2 separate regions of the Homo sapiens genome follow, and region 1 is linked to region 2. The links come from fine-mapping of genetic effects on gene expression. A gene starts in region 2. The other region holds a variant in brackets. All regions are shown on one strand. Distances are from middle to middle.

Region 1 (8,325 bases), 84 kb before region 2:
CAGGATACCCCATTCTGAGGAACAAAATTGAATTTAAGCGGCCAGGGAAGGCTGCTAACAAGGACAACTGGAATAAATTCCTTATGGCCATCAAGGTTAGAGAGGAGGACTTGGAGAATGAAGGCAGAGAGGGCAGCACTAAAAAAAGAAAAAAAAACAAGTCTGGGTGCAGTGGCTCATACCTTTAATCCCAGCACTTTGGGAGGCCAAGGTGGGCGGATCACCTGAGGTCAGGAGTTTGAGACCAGCCTGGCCAACATGGTTAAAACCTCGTCTCTACTAAAAATACAAAAGTTAGCCGGGTCTGGTGGCGTGCACCTGTAATCCCAGCTACTCAGGAGGCTGAGGCAGGAGAATCGCTTAAACCCGAGAGGCAGAGGTTGCAGTGAGCTGAGATTGTGCCACTGCACTCCAGCCTGGGCGACAAAGCAAGACTTTGTCTCAAAACAAACAAAAAACCCACATACACACTAGAAAGATGGGTGGGATTACAGGAAGGCAGATGCAGACCCTGAAGCCTGCGATGGAGCTGATTTTGTATTTCCAGCATTAACAAGTTCCTCTCATGTTCTTCCATTTGCTCACAGACCTCCCACAGCCCAGTGTGCCAGGACGTGCTGAAATTCATCAGTCAGTGGTGTGGAGGGCTCCCCAGCACCAGCTTTTCCTTTCAGTAGTTGGTAGAGCTGAGGAAGAGTTAGGGCCTCTCCCTCATTAAAGTTTTATAAATAATTGAGACCACTGTATTCTTTGATCAAAGTCATTCCCAACACCACACAGTGCCTTTTCCCCAAAAGGAATCATAATCAAGTAGAAGAAAAGAGAAGTTACTTTATTACAATTTGTTATCTCATCCCGAGGTCAGGGCCCCTTGCTTAGTGGGAAAAAAAACCCTTTAGGACTGAGTCTCGGAACAGCACCTGCTGGACAGAGGGGAGAACCAACCCAGGTCAGAGGGGAAAGCAGCATGGCAAGACCTAGACCCAGTTCTAAGAGCACTTCCTTGTCCCCGCTCTTACCCGGGCCACCACCTTCAAGGCCCATTACCTGTCCTAAACCCAACTTCTCTGTGATGCCCGGATTTCTTGATTTTGATCCAGTAGCTGCTCATTTTCCTGCCTTTTACATTTAGGAGATTCAAGCTCTGTCATTTCCTCTAGCTGCAGAAGAAGATAGAGTTAGACACCCTCGCCCTGAATGATAGGTCAGCATCTTTTTTTTGTTTTGTTTTTTGTGACGGAGCCTCACTCTGTTGCCCAGGCTGGAGTGCAGTGGCGTGATCTCGGTTCACTGCAACCTCCGCCTTCCGGGTTCAAGCGATTCTCCTGCCTCAGCCTTCCAAGTAGCTGGGATTACAGGCGCCCACCACCCCACCTAATTTTTTGTATTTTTAGTAGAGACGAGGTTTCACCATGTTGTCCAAGCTGGTCTCAAACTCCTGACCTCAAGTGATCCGCCTGCCTCAGCCTCCCAAAGTGCTGGGATTACAGGTGTGAGCCTCCGCACCCGGCCGGTCAGCATCTTTTCAACACAGCCAGTCTCTGTGGAATGAACCCTTCCTGTTTGCCTTCCTTACCTGCCCCTGAAGTCCGTCCTTCCTGCAGGGCCCAACTCCACGTAGAGTGAGTGCAGCCACACAGCAGTAACCAGATAGAGCAGCCTCCCCTGCAGACATGAGCAAAGAAGGGATCCAGAGAGCCAAGGCTGTATCCTGAAAAGCAAGAAGGATGGGGAGTAGGAGGGAGTAGGGCAAGTGCAGCAAATAGGGGAAATTAAAAGGGCAGGACCAAGGCTTTGTAGACCACAAGAAGGAAGAGAATGTGCTCACATAGATTCTTGTGGGGTCAAAGGGGCAGTCAGTATGTCCCGGCCCCTCATCCAGTGGTACCAGAGGATCCAGCAGTCCTGGGTGGCAGTCAGCAATAAGGCGGCGGCCACCGTTGGCCACAGTGAGTGACACAGCAAGAAGGAGGCCCAGGGAGCAGGCAACGGACAAGAGCAGGTTCACCAGAGCTAGTGCCAGCAGGACCCAGTGCTGGCAGGGACAGGAGATCAGGGTGAGCAGCCTGGGCCTGGCTAACTCTCCCAGTGACTAGACACCCAGTTTCTCTGAGGCTCCTCCAATCTATTGAAAGACCAAGCTCAGTCAGCCCCCATTTCCCTGACTCAAGCCTACTCGTTAAAAGCTCCAGGGAAGTCCCTCTCACCAGTGGAGGGCGAAGAAGGTTCCTGGACGCCAGGAGGGCCACAAGTCCCACGGAAACGCTCTGTGGAAGACACAAAGCCTTTGGCCTGCTGGGCTCTCCGGGAGCCCGGCCCCCGCCCGGGTCGCCTGCCGCGCTCACCAGCAGCCCCGAGCCGACAGAGATGACATTGGCTACGGTGTACTCCGGCGTGACAGCGCCGCGGGGATTGGCCACGTGCCGCAGGACGGTGCCATGCAGCACGGCCCCCAGCAGCAGGTTCACGTGGCCCACCAAGATCAGCGCGAGGCCCACACGCATCAGCCGCCTGGGCCCCCGGGCGGCGTCTGCAAAGCACGGGGGAGGGCAGGGTTGAGTCGGGCGGGGAGGGGAGAGGCGGCTCGCGGCGGGTTAACCGCGGGCAGTAGGACGGGGCAAGGGTAGCCCCAGGGTAAGGAGACGAGACGCCAGGGCCCGGAAGTTACCGAAAGCGCAGAGACTGCAGCGCCTCATCCCGTCCGCCGCGCCAGCCGCAGGGCCGCTGTACCTGGGCCCGGCCCCGCCCCAACCTGGGCCCCGCCTCCGTCCCGGGTCCCCCTCCCACCTGGGCCCCGCCTCCGCCCCGGGCCCGCTCCCCCTGGCGGGAAAGGCGCGAACACACGACGCTTTTAGCAAAAAGTAGACTTTTATTACAGCAGCAACTGAGGCGAATCGAATGGCCCCCCAGGGCCACCACTGCAGCACCACCTTTCTCTCCCGCCCCGGCCGCCCCAGCGGGATTGTAGAATTCGGCTCCCCTAGTGCCCGTGGGCCTCCTTTCCACACAGGCTGGGCGGGAGCCGGCAGATCAGCGACTAGCCCCCAACTAGAAGGCGGCTGCTGAGAAGGCCCAGGCCCACGTCTGTGCAAAACAAGTAAACAAAGTGCAGAGGGGAGGAAGAGAGGGGAGGGGAAAGGATGATGCTCAGAACCAGGGAGCCCCCCCAGCCCTCCTGAATAATAAAGGAGGGAAGGGGCTTCACAGGGTAATACTGACTGGGGGGAAGGGACAGGAGGGCTGCAGCACGTCCAGGGACAGCCACAGCGCAGATCAGGGCCTGGCCCGAGTGAGCTCTAAGAGGAGACGGTGACAGCGGCTGAGTTGAGGGTACTGTTCCTGGCAAAATTGAACTTGTTCAAGGTCTCTTCTAGCAGAGAAGTCAACCGGCTCTGGTCAGCCTGGGGGAGAAGAGCTCAGTAAGATGGGGGCTGAGAGAAGAGAAGGCATGGGGGCAGCCAGGGCAGATGAAGGCAGAAACCTCACCTCACTAATGAAGCCCAGCTGCACCAGCTCAGCCGCCAACTCGGGGATATTCTCATCTGACAAAGAAACAGGAGGGGGTGAGTACAGTACGGGACTGAGGGACCTGGGGCCCTTCAGACAGCCCCACTAGGGCTAAACTGTCAGTCAGATCCACCCACTGCTTTAGGGTCTAAGATAGTCATTCTATGTGAGTCAATGTGTTACTGCCTTGTCACCTCCCCCACCCCTGAATATGTCCCTAAAAGATAAGGCTCATAGACTCTCCATCCTCTGAGGGAAAGGAGAGACTCACTTGGCATCAGGTCACAGCTCAGGTGCCGGTTCAGTTTGTCCTCCAACTTCAGCAGAAGTGTCAGCTGGAGAATAGGACAGTCAGAAAATGAGACTTTTCTTCCCTACCCTCTGGCTACTAGCCCTGCGCAACCCTAGCCCTGAGCCTTACGTGGTGTTTGACTCCCTCCTCCACCGACTCAATGTTGCACTGCATCAGCACCACCTAGGGAGGGAAGAGAGGGTCACTCTAGAGACCTGTCCATAAAAAACCCAATACCTAGACGTCTTTCGAGCCCATAGGGCATGGCTGCTAGGGAGCATTTTCTCTAAAGGATAGAGCCTTATTTGAGATGTCCTCTCTCCCTTCCACCACAACCATGGAGACAATCCACACCCACACAGCCCCCACCTTGCGAGTCTCCACCTCAGCTGGTTCAGGTGTCGGAGTCTTGACAGAGGGGGGCACGACAGGTGATGTCACCTCCTCCTGCTGTGGCTGCTGGGGCCGAGGCAGCCCAAAGGCTGTCAGAGGATAGATCCCATTCCTGGAGGGAGATGAAGACAGGTCACATGGGCTCTGTGAACGCCTTAGGATACCCAACCCCGCCTGCTTCCTCAAGAAAGCCTGCTTCTCACTCTGCTCTCACCTGACATCTTCAAGGAATTTATCTAATTCCAGAGCTGGTGACTGAGAGTACCTGGACGAGAAAAGAGAAAGGAGATGGAAGGAAAGAAACAAGCAAAATAGCAAATTCAAGCATTCCCAGAGAATGGACAGTTTACAGAGCCTCAAGAGTGGTCGTGACCAATCTGCCCCTTTCAGACCCTCTCAGTTACTCACAAAGTCTGAACTGGTTCTCTTCCTGGTCCTGCAGGGATTTCAGCCAGTA[C/T]GGCACTAGTATCCATGTTTTTGGTGATCTCCTCTAGAGCGTTCTCTGGGATCATGTCTGGAGGGCATGATGGAGTGGGATATTATGAAGGGATAGTCAGATTAAATGTCAAAGAAGGCATGCAGGCAAAGGGGTAAAGAATCCCTTTGGAGGCCTGGCACAGTGGCTCATGCCTGTAATCCCAGCACTTTGGGAAGCCGAGGCGGACAGATCACTTGACGCCAGTTCAAGACCAGCCTGGCCAACATGGCGAAACCCCATCTCTACTAAAAGTACAAAAATTACCCAGGCATGGTGGCACATGCCTGTAATCCCAGCTCTTCGGGAGGCTAAGGCACAAGAATCGCTTGAGCCTGGGAGCTGGAGGTTGCAATGAGCTGAGATCAAGCCATTGCACTCCAGCCTGAGAGAGAGTGAGACTCTGTCTCAAAAAAAAAAAAAAAAAAAAAAAAAAAAAAAAAAAAGAATCCCTTTGGAAATAAAGAGGAAAACAAGCATGCCAGTGATAGTTACAGGGCTCCAGATTGGAAGACTATTCCCCATAGGGCCAAGACGACTCACGTTGGTGTCCCACAATGCAGTGGGCCGCAAGGAGTTTGAGCGAGGGCACTTCAAACAATGCTGGGTGGAACAGAAGTTCTCTGGCTGTTGGTCTGCGAGCAGGCTCAGACTGCAGGCACTTTTGAATGAACTCCTAGAAAAGGAAACAAGGAACTGGAGCAGGCATCTGGCAAGCCCCCAGTGTGTTCATCTTTATAGCTCTCATTCTACTTAGCACAAGGCTTTGTACATAGTAGGTGCTCAGCACTTGCTGAGAAAACAATATATTGAAAAATGCACCTGAAAGGGCTTCAAAAACTGTAAGATATTATATGAAAGATACCATCCACTGCCTTTCTGGTTTTAATTATTTTTCTGCTCTCCAACCACAAGCTTTCTTTTTTAATGTTCACAATTTTTTTTTTTTTTTTTTTTGAGACGGAGTCTCGCTCTGTCGCCCAGGCTGGAGTGCAGTGGCGCAATCTCAGCTCACTGCAACCTCTGCCTACCGGGTTCACGCCATTCTCCTGCCTCAGCCTCCCGAGTAGCTGGGACTACAGGTGCCCACCACCATGCCCGGCTAATTTTTTGTATTTTCAGTAGAGACGGTTTCACCATGTTAGCCAGGATGGTCTCAATCTCCTGACCTCGTGATCCACCCGCCTCAGCCTCCCAAAGTGCCGGTATTACAGGCATGAGACACCGCGCCCGGCCCCACACTTTCTTTTTCCTTAGTTTCTACCTCTCTGCTTTATTAGTCAACTCACTGCCTATCTTCTTTTCTAAATCTTGCCAAATTTAGCTTCTCTCTTCCCAAACTTACCCAATGTGATCAATATTCACCATTTTTTTATTTCACAAGCCTAGTATCACAATTTCCTTTGCCCACAATCACTGAATTCACCGAATTTCCCAGGATTCCTCTAACGATTCTGCCTTATTTTCTTTCTTTCTTTTTTCTGAGACAGGGTCTTGCTGTGCCAACCAGGCTGGAGTACAGTGGCACAATCACAGCTCACTGCTGCCTCAACCTCCTGGGCTCAAGCAATCCTCCCACTTCAGCTTCCAGAGTAGCTGGGACCACAGGCATGTGCCACCATACCCAGATAATTTTTATTTTTTCATAGAGATAGGGTTTTACCACGTTGCCCAGGCTAGTCTCGAACTCCTGAGCTCAAGTGATCCTCCCACCTCAGCCTCCAAAAGTGCTGGGATTAAAAGTATGAGCCACCATGTTCCACCACCGCCTCCTTTTCTACCTCCTGCATGTCCCATGACAATTAACCTGCTTTCCTGCTTTTAACCTTGAAGGCTAACAAGGTCACATACCTAATCTTTCACTTGAATACTCCACCTCAATGTTGAAGTAGAAACTTACTCCACACTATCCTCCTGACTTCCCACTAGTCTTCTTTTCTCTCCTGTTCCCTACTATACTTATCTAATGAGTTACAAACTGTTCTTGTTTGGACCTTCCTGCCCAGGCTCTGCTTACTATAGTCTATCAACTGATTCATAACCTTATGTCTTTTAAATCTTAGCTCATTATTTCAGGCCACCGTCCCTAACTAAAACTGTATAAATATAAAATCCCAAACAACTGGTTTAATTTAAATTGACTGATGTGCTTAAAAATATAAAAATGGCTGTCTGAGAGTATACAGCAATGGCCTGAAGTAACCATCAAATTAATTTACCTCCATGTAGACACATTCAAATTAACATACTTTTTTTTTTTTTTTGAGACAGTCTCGCTCTCTTGCCCCAGCTGGAGTGCAGTGGCCCAATCTCAGCTCACTGCAATCTCCGCCTCCCGGGTTCAAGCTTGCCTCAGCCTCCCGAGTAGGTGAGACTACAGGCACACACCACCATGCCCAGCTAATTTTTGTATTTTTAGTAGAGACAGGGTTTCACCATGTTGGCCAGGCTGGTCTCAAACTCCTGACCTCAAGTGATCCACCCGCCTCAGCCTCTCAAAGTGCTGGGATTACAGGTGTGAGCCACTGCACCCAGCCAACACACAACTTTTTTTTTTTTCTTTTTTTCTGAGACGGAGTCTACCTGTGTCGCCCAGGCTGGAGTGCAGTGGCGCGATCTCAGCTCACTGCAAGCTTTGCCTCCCGGGTTCATGCCATTCTCCTGCCTCAGCCTCCTGAGTAGCTGGGACTACAGGCTCCCGCCACCAAGCCTGGCTAATTTTTTTTGTATTTTTAGTAGAGACAGGGTTTCACCATGTTAGCCAGGATGGTCTCGATCCCCTGACCTCGTGATCCGCCCGCCTCGGCCTCCCAAAGTGCTGGGATTACAGGCGTGAGCCACCATGCCCGGCTTCCAACACACAACTTTTAACCCCAGCATCATCCATCTTAACCCCCTTACCTGTGTGTTTCTATGCAAAAACATGGTAGGCACCTCCTAAGAAAATGTTTATAGATTTTTCGTGTCCTTTCTGTTATGTTCCCTAGCTCTTAGGAGCATATACCCAGTGGGTACAAAGGAAGAAAAACCAGAAGACATTTGAAGGTCAGTTGAGGAGGGAGTGATCCTGAAGATCCTTACCCTCTGTAATGGGTCTTCTAGAAGCTGGATGGCACTGCTGATGGCTTCCTGTGGCACATATGAGGACTCTCCATTGCCCTGAATCTCCAGCACTGCCATCTTCAGTGAGGAAGAATAAAAAAAAAAGTAGACACCTAAGAACTTCAGTGCTCCCACAATCACTCCCTCCAAGCCAGCGCCTTACTTGTCTTCCCTCCATTCCCAATTCCATCTTCTCATCTGACCCCTTTCCCCCCTCCCCTCCAGTCCCCTCACCTCCAGTGCACACATGCCAAAGGAGTAGATGTCCACTGCTGTTGTCACATTAGTGACTTCTAGGGAAAACAGAGAAGGCTTTGGTTAATCAGAGGATTGGGGGCTAGGGTTGGCAGGAATGCCTTAGGAAAAAAAAAAAAGAAAAGAAAAATATTTTGTATGCTGGTAGAGAAGGCCTAGAAGTTTCAGTTATATTGCCTCTGTACCTCAAGTTATAAGGTGCAAAAGCAGGGGGATGAGGACAGGGCAGAGAAAGCAGGAAGGCTCACCTCCATACTCTGGTGCAAAGAAGTGTAGATTCTTCTGCTCTTCTCGACAAGTC
Region 2 (8,279 bases):
CAAAAAAAAAAAAAAAAGAGCAGTCTCCTATCCCCTTTTTACATTGACATTGGCTTACAGAAGCCATGTTGATTGTCATATGAAATGTTCTGCATTCTAGATTTGACTGTTTGCTTTCTTATGTTGTCATTTCACTCATTCCCTATGTCCTGTATTTCTTTTTTTTTTATTTGAGATGGAGTCTTGCTCTGTTGCCCAGGCTGGAGTGCAATGGCACGATTTCAGCTCACTGCAACCTCTGCCTCCCAGGTTCAAGTGATTCTCCTGCCTTAGCCTCCCGAGTAGCTGGGACTACAGGTGTGCGTCACCACATCCAGCTAATTTTCTTTTGTATTTTTAGTAGAGACAGGGTTTCACCACATTGGCCAGGCTGGTCTTGAACTCCTGACCTCAGATTATCCGCCCTCCTTGGCCTCCCAAAGTGCTGGGATTACAGGTGTGAGCCACCACGCCTGGCCCCTAAGTCCTGTATTCCTATTCAATTTTTTGGGCAAGAATGTTTAATAAGTGGTTCTGTGTGCTTTATATTGCCTCACATCAGGAGGCAAACAATGACTGGTGGTTTCATGTTCAGTGATGAGTGGGTCCAGGCATTTTAAAGCTTCCTAAAAGCTCTTTAGGGATTTCATCCACTGGTGATTGTTGCCTGAATTATTTCACTGGGACATGCAAAATAGTGATTTTTTTCTATCATTCTTTGCACAATTACTAGCTGTTAATCTATAAAAAAAAAAAAAAATCCCGGGCTGGGCAATGGCTCACACCCGTAATCCCAGCACGTTGGGAGGCTTAGGTGTGCGGATCACCTGAGGTCAGGAGTTCAAGACCAGCCTCGCCAACATGGTGAAACCCCGTCTCTACTAAAAAAATACAAAAATTAGCCGGGAGTGGTGGCGGGCGCCTGTAATCCCAGCTACTCAGGAGGCTGAGGCACAAGAATTGCTTGAACCTGGGAGGCAGAGGTTGCAGTGAGCCGAGATCGCGCCACTGCACTCCAGCCTGGGCGACAGAGTGAGACTCAGTCTCAAAAAACAAACAAAACCTTCCTCTCATCAGTTATTTTGAACTAGAGTTCATACTGGAAAGACAAGATAAATGCCTTACTCTTGCCTTTTTTTTTTTTTTGCCAATTTTCAGGAATTGGTCACTACTTTCTTTTTTTCTTTCTTTTTTTTTTTTTTTTTTAGAGCTTAATGAGTTTTTTTTATTTTTTTATTTTTTTATTTTTTAATTTATTTTTTTATTGCTAATTCTTGGGTGTTTCTCACAGAGGGGGATTTGGCAGGGTCATGGGACAACAGTGGAGGGAAGGTCAGCAGATAAACAAGTGAACAAAGGTCTCTGGTTTTCCTAGGCAGAGGACCCTGCGGCCTTCCGCAGTGTTTGTGTCCCTGATTACTTGAGATTAGGGATTGGTGATGACTCTTAACGAGCATGCTGCCTTCAAGCATCTGTTTAACAAAGCACATCTTGCACCGCCCTTAATCCATTTAACCCTGAGTGGACACAGCACATGTTTCAGAGAGCACAGGGTTGGGGGTAAGGTCACAGATCAACAGGATCCCAAGGCAGAAGAATTTTTCTTAGTGCAGAACAAAATGAAAAGTCTCCCATGTCTACTTCTTTCTACAGAGACACGGCAACCATCCGATTTCTCAATCTTTTCCCCACCTTTCCCGCCTTTCTATTCCACAAAGCCGCCATTGTCATCCTGGCCCGTTCTCAATGAGCTGTTGGGCACACCTCCCAGACGGGGTGGTGGCCGGGCAGAGGGGCTCCTCACTTCCCAGTAGGGGCGGCCGGGCAGAGGCGCCCCTCACCTCCCGGACGGGGCGGCTGGCCGGGCAGGGGGCTGACCCCCCCACCTCCCTCCCGGACGGGGCGGCTGGCCGGGCGGGGGGCTGACCCCCCACCTCCCTCCCGGACGGGGTGGCTGCCGGGCGGAGATGCTCCTCACTTCCCAGATGGGGTGGCTCCTCACTTCTCAGACGGGGCGGCCGGGCAGAGACGCTCCTCACCTCCCAGACGGGGTCGCGGCCGGGCAGAGGCGCTCCTCACATCCCAGATGGGGCGGCGGGGCAGAGGCGCTCCCCACATCTCAGACGATGGGCGGCCGGGCAGAGACGCTCCTCACTTCCTAGATGTGATGGCGGCTGGGAAGAGGCACTCCTCACTTCCTAGATGGGATGGCGGCCGGGCGGAGACGCTCCTCACTTTCCAGACTGGGCAGCCAGGCAGAGGGGCTCCTCACATCCCAGACGATGGGCGGCCAGGCAGAGACACTCCTCACTTCCCAGACGGGGTGGCGGCTGGGCAGAGGCTGCAATCTCGGCACTTTGGGAGGCCAAGGCAGGCGGCTGGGAGGTGTAGGTTGTAGCGAGCCGAGATCACGCCACTGCACTCCAGCCTGGGCACCATTGAGCACTGAGTGAACGAGACTCCGTCTGCAATCCCGGCACCTCGGGAGGCCGAGGCTGGCGGATCACTCGCGGTTAGGGGCTGGAGACCGGCCCGGCCAACACAGCGAAACCCCGTCTCCACCAAAACCAGTCAGGCGTGGCAGCGCGTGCCTGCAATCGCAGGCACTCGGCAGGCTGAGGCAGGAGAATCAGGCAGGGAGGTTGCAGTGAGCCGAGATGGCAGCAGTACAGTCCAGCTTCGGCTCCACATGAGAGGGAGACCATGGAAAGAGAGGGAGACCGTGGGTAGAGGTAGAGGTAGAGAGGTAGAGAGGTAGAGAGGTGGAGGTAGAGGTAGAGCAGTTTAATGGTCACTACTTTCAATGGTGTAGGATGAGTAGCTGATATTTTGGCTTTTACTTTTTTTAAAAGATCATTATCAATACATGGATTTCTATATTTTGAACATACTACTTAATCATCAAAATTAAGCAGAGGATCAACAGGGTTGCTTTATGCTTTAGAAAGATAACCGGGCCAGGCATGGCAACTCACACCTGTAATCCCAGCACTTTGGGAGGCATAGGCAGGAGGATCGCTTGCGCTCAGTAGTGTGAGACCTGCCTGGGCAATATAGCAAGACCTCATCTCTATTAAACAACAACAACAAAAAAACCTGGAAGTGGTGGTATACACCTGCCACACACCCCAACTATTCAGGAGGCTGAGGTGGCAGGTTGAGGCTGCAGTGAGCCGTGATTGCACCACTGTCCTCCAGCCTGGGTGACAGAGCAAGACCCTGTCTCAAAACAAACAAACAAACAAACAAACACCTAGTAGAAATTAGAGGCAGAGAAGTAGATCAGTGAAAAGATTGGTTATAAATCAAAATTACAAATGCACCTAAAACTTTGGTTCACAATTCCACTTCTAGAAATTATCCTACCCATATAGTTACACATTTGAAGTAATTTAGATGCAAGGTTACTTATAGCAGTGTGATTTATAATAGCAAGGGACCATTGTTTATAACAGCAAAACCATGTAAATATGCATCAATATCAACAAGGCACTAGTTATACCACATCCACCCAATTAAATGCTAACTAGTTATAGCACAGAATGAGAAAGGTTTTTGTGTACAGAAATGGAATAATGGCCAAACTCAGTGACTTACACCTGTGATCGCAGCACTATGGGAGGCTGAGGCAAGAGGATCACTTCAGGTCAGGTGTTCAAGACCAGCCTGGTCAACATAACGAGACCCCATCTCTAGAAAAAATTAAAAAATTAGGCCGGGCGCGGTGGCTCATGCCTGTAATCCCAGCACTTTGGGAGGCTGAGGCAGGCGTATCACAAGGTCAGGAGTTCGAGACCAGCCTGGCCAACATAGTGAAACCCCTTCTCTACTAAAAAGACAAAAATTATCCGGGCTTGGTGGCGGGCGCCTGTAATCTCAGCTACTCGGGAGGCTGAGGCAGGACAATTGCTTGAACCCGGGAGGCGGAGTTTGCAGTGAGCCGAGATCGCGCCACTGCACTCCAGCCTGGGGACAGAGCAAGACTCCATCTCAGGAAAAAATAAAAATAAAAATAAAAACGGGGTCTCACTATGTTGCCCAGGCTGGTATCGAATTCCTGGGCTCAAGTGATCCTCCCCCGCCTTGGCCTCCCAAAGTGCTGGGATTACAGACAGGAGCTACCATACCCAGCCAAAGTCATGCTTTTCTACTCCTACTCCTTCCCTTCCTTGTCCTCTTTCCAAGCTCTCTCGGGCCCATCCCTGACTTCACTACTGGCAGAATCCTCCAGCGGCCGGCGGCGAGGACTTCTTTGTCTCCCAGACTCCGCCTTGGGCTCGGACGCCGCCAGGGTTGCAGGTACAGACTCTCTGGTCTAGCTGGCTCTTCCGGCCACAGGCGCGGCAGTCCGGCCGGAAAGGCCGGATTCAGGGATCCAGAGCGCGAGCCCGGCCTGGGAGTCCGCCTACTCCCGGCTCCCGTCGAGGCCGCGTGGGATCCCGTTGGCCGCGCAGGCGTCGATCTCCCCTTTTTGACACTGCAACTCCCATGAGGCCCTGCAGCGTCCCTGGCGCCGCTGAAGACGCCCTGGAACTCGGCTGGCTTCGGAGGGCTCGGTGACTCTGGCCGCGCTGCATTATGGAATACAGAGTCTAAGAGAAAACTAGCCCGGCACCGACTCCGGACCAAGCACACGTGTTTACCTTGTGCACTGGGGTGGGGGCGTCAGTGAAGAGCAGCTAACAAGATTTCGTCATAAGACCGCGACCAGACAGGCGGCGCCATCTTCGAACTTAGACTTCCGGAAGGACTTTGGCGAGGGTGAGTGTATCGCCGCAGCGGGTGTGTGGGGGGCCCCACAATTACTCCTCCCCCTTCTTTTGCCATAGCACTAAGATATTGGGAACAAACTCCTGGCTCCGCTCTTCTCCCAGCCACAGCAGCGCGCCTTTCAGCGTCTGCGCTCCTACAGAGCACCATCATGCTCCGCACCTTCCCTACTGTGGCCACCGTGCACCCCCCATCTCTGCAAGCCTCGGGTCTTGCCCTCCTCCCCCACGCGGTGTCGGTAACGCGGAAGCCTGTGTCCGGGCGTAGGCGCTGCATACGTAGCGTCCCTCGAACTCGGCGAACCTACAGTAGTCCTTGTTAGAAAAACCAGGGCTCCTCTCCCGCACAGGCTAGGGGAGAAATCTACCTTCACGCCCAGGACTGAAGAAGGGCAGGTGATGGCCCCTAGAGTGGTTGTGGGTCAATCTCTTTCAGCTGTGTCCCAGCCTCTTCCTCGAGGAGGCTCTTTAACCCCGAGGGTTGTGCCCCGCGCGCTGCAACGCCATTGGCGTAACCAAGGGCCAGTTGTGTTTCCCTGTCTAGTCCTTTTGTCCCGTGGCAAGTTGGCTGCCTGTTGGGGAAGTCAGAGGTGGCGACTTCAACTCCGTCGGAGGCAACTCACTTTGTTGGAGGGATGTATAGGGTATGGACAAACCTCTTTGTTCCAGAGGCATATACAATTTTAAGTCAATCCCGTGCCATCACTATTTTTGCAATCTCTTATCAATTGTACTATTGTTTTCTGAATAGTTCTCTTTAAATTGACTTACTTAAAAAGTTTAAATGCATTAGTCTCGACCTAAGCAATATAAATGAAACCGTGGGTTTCATGGGCTACTTATAATTGTTTATGTAAGTTGAAATAAAAGCACTAGTCATTAAAATGTTCGTTTTCGTACCATTAAAATCATCTTGCATACCGCCAGTTGTACCCTAGGAACACTTTAGGAAACAATATATTAAGCTAAGCAGTGTATTCAAAGTAATTTCATACTTAAGGTGCAGTGTTGTGTCATTATTTTTTCTTGGCTGGGGAGGTCAAGCTGGCATCCTGGAGCAGCATGGGAACCAGACAGATTGGGGTGCAATGGAAGGTTTTAGAAACTCAGTACGAATTTACTGATCATCTATTCCTTTACTGTGTATCCAGAATTTGTACCATTACATCCTGCTGCTGCCTTCCATGAGAAGTGTATTTTTTTTTTTTTTGATACGGAGTTTTGTTCTTGTTGCCCAGGCTGGAGTGCAGTGGCGTGATCTCGGCTCACTGCAACCTCCGCCTCCCGGGTTCAAGCGATTCTCCTGCCTCAGCCTCCTGAGTAGCTGGAATTACAGGCGCGTGCCACCATGCCCGGCTACTTTTGTATTTTTAGTAGAGACGGGGTTTTACCATGTTGGTCAGGCTGGTCTCGAACTTGTGACCTCGTTATCCGCCCACCTCGGCCTCCTAAAGTGCTGGGATTACAGGCGTGAGCCACCGTGCCCGGCCAGGCAAATTATATGTACAGGCAATTCATAAAAGTCATATGGATGTCCAATATATAGAAAGAAGTTGCTGACACCAATTATTATCAGTGCAAATAAATAGAGTGGGGAAGAATTCTTTCACCTATCAGATTGGCGAAAATTAAAAAGATCAGTAACGGTATGATAAAATGGGTACTAATATACATAAATAGTTTTAATTTTGGTGAGCCGTTTGGTAGTATCAAATTTTGAAATGTGCATGTTCTTCAGTGTAGTACAGTAATTCCATGTTCAGATGATTATTCGAGAAAAATAATTTATTGATGAATTAATGAAGAGATTTGTACTAGAATATTTATTGCAGTATTTTTTGAAATAGTATTTTAACTCATTTGTTCATTAAATGAAGATTGTCTAAATAACTAATTCTATGGAATGCCATGCAGCAATTAGGAAGAATGAGATAAATATATGTATACTGATGTAGAAAATCCTTTAAAAAAAACCGGAATCTTCCTCTGTCACTCAGGCTGGAGTGCAGTGGCGTGATATCGGCTCACTGCAACCTCTCCCTCTGCCTCTTGGGTTCAAGTGATTCTCCTGTCTCAGCCTCCCGAGTAGATGGGATTACAGGCGCCTGCCACCACGCCGGGCTAATTTTTATATTTTTAGTAGAGATGGGGTTTCACCATGTTGGCCAGGCTAGTCTCCTGACCTCAAGTGATCCATCTGCCTTGGCCTCCCAAAGTGCTGGGATTACAGGCGTGAGTCACAGCACTTGGCCTAGAAAATCCTTAAGACTTGTATAGAAGCTCTCTTAACTGATTTCCATTTAGCTCCTTATGTTAACTGACATACTCTTATTTCCTCTCTAAATGCTTGAAGCTTGAAGGTTTTTCTCCTGTAGACGTGGTCAGTCTGCTTCCACTAGTTGAGTTGAATGCTTGCCAAGAGTCATTGTATTGGTTCCCACTTTTTTTGAGACAAGATCTTGCTCTGTCACCCAGGCTGGAGTCGAGTGGCATGATCACAGCTCACTGTAACCTTGAACTCCTGGGCTCAGGCGATCCTCCTGCCTCAGCCTCTCGAATAGCTAGAGCTACAGGTATTTGCCACCACACCCAGCTAATTAAACATTTTTGTTGTTGTTGTTGAGACAGGATTTTGTTATGTTGTCCAGGCTCCCACCCTTTTTTTTTTTTTTTTTAATGTTTTGCTTTGTCTTTATACATACGTTATAGGCTGGGTGTGGTGACTCAAACCTGTAATCCTAGCACTTTGGAAGTTGAAGCTAGAGGATCACTTGAGCCCAGGAATTTGAGACCAGTCTGAGTAAGATAGTTGAGACCCTGTCTCTACAAAAAAAATAAAAATTAGCTAGGCCTGCTGGTGTGTGCATGTGGTCCCAGTGACCTGAGAGGCTGAGATGGGGAGGAGCACTTGGGCCCAGGAGGTCAAGGTGCAGTGAGCCATGATCATCGCACTACTGCATTCCAGCCTGGGTGACAGGGGAAATAAATTTTAATATGAAAGAGTTATTGTTTCTATTAAAACTAAGTTGATTGGGAGGCCGAGGTGGGTGGATCACCTGAGGTTGGGAGTTTGAGACCAGCCTGGCCAACATGGTGAAATCCCATCTCTACTAAAAGTACAAAACTTAGCTGGGCATGGTGGCACATGCCTGTAATCCCAGCTACTCAGGAGGCTGAGGCAGAAGAATCACTTGAACCCCAGAGGCGGAGGCAGCGGTGAGCAGAGAGCATGCCCCTGCGCTCCAGCCTGGGAGACAGAGCGTGACTCTGTCTCAAAAAAACAAAAACAAAAAACTAAAAAACTAAGTTGAACCATAGATGGTTGTTTGCTCCTTTTTTTTTTTTTTTTGAGACGGAGTCTAGCTCTGTCGCCAGGCTGGAGTGCAGTGGTGCAATCTTGGCTCACTGCAACCTCCTGCAAGCAATTCTCCTGCCTCAGCCTCCTGAGTAGCTGGGATTACAGGGGTGTGCCGCCACACCCAGCTAATTTTTGTATTTTTAGTAGAAACGAGGTTTCACCATGTTGGCCAG

What was found.
Region 1: its variant is fine-mapped to the expression of GTF3C2 in whole blood (TOPMed, PIP above 0.99).

Annotation. Positions count from the first base shown.
Region 1 is chr2:27,436,784-27,445,108 of GRCh38, reverse strand. NRBP1 (nuclear receptor binding protein 1) reads right to left here. Exons shown (of 18, transcript NM_013392.4): 8 at 8,273-8,325; 9 at 8,004-8,062; 10 at 7,749-7,847; 11 at 5,211-5,343; 12 at 4,601-4,706; 13 at 4,407-4,457; 14 at 4,169-4,304; 15 at 3,929-3,982; 16 at 3,779-3,842; 17 at 3,487-3,542; 18 at 2,850-3,401. The coding sequence ends at 3,297. KRTCAP3 (keratinocyte associated protein 3) reads right to left here and starts at 2,728. Exons shown (of 7, transcript NM_173853.4): 1 at 2,669-2,728; 2 at 2,346-2,530; 3 at 2,208-2,267; 4 at 1,829-2,035; 5 at 1,577-1,711; 6 at 1,048-1,160; 7 at 812-923. The coding sequence starts at 2,696. The coding sequence ends at 1,053. It overlaps IFT172 (intraflagellar transport 172), which reads left to right. Exons shown (of 48, transcript NM_015662.3): 47 at 4-95; 48 at 588-732. The coding sequence ends at 677. RefSeq lists an enhancer at 2,051-2,593. The variant C/T (reference allele first, on the strand shown) is at 4,650.
Region 2 is chr2:27,353,200-27,361,478 of GRCh38, reverse strand. It overlaps GTF3C2 (general transcription factor IIIC subunit 2), which reads left to right and starts at 4,715. Exons shown (of 19, transcript NM_001035521.3): 1 at 4,715-4,740. It overlaps GTF3C2-AS2 (GTF3C2 antisense RNA 2), which reads right to left and starts at 4,714. Exons shown (of 4, transcript NR_183827.1): 1 at 4,623-4,714; 2 at 3,577-3,671; 3 at 2,019-2,594. RefSeq lists enhancers at 1,214-1,955, 4,385-4,514, 4,094-4,707, 4,525-4,864, 4,915-5,194 and 1 more.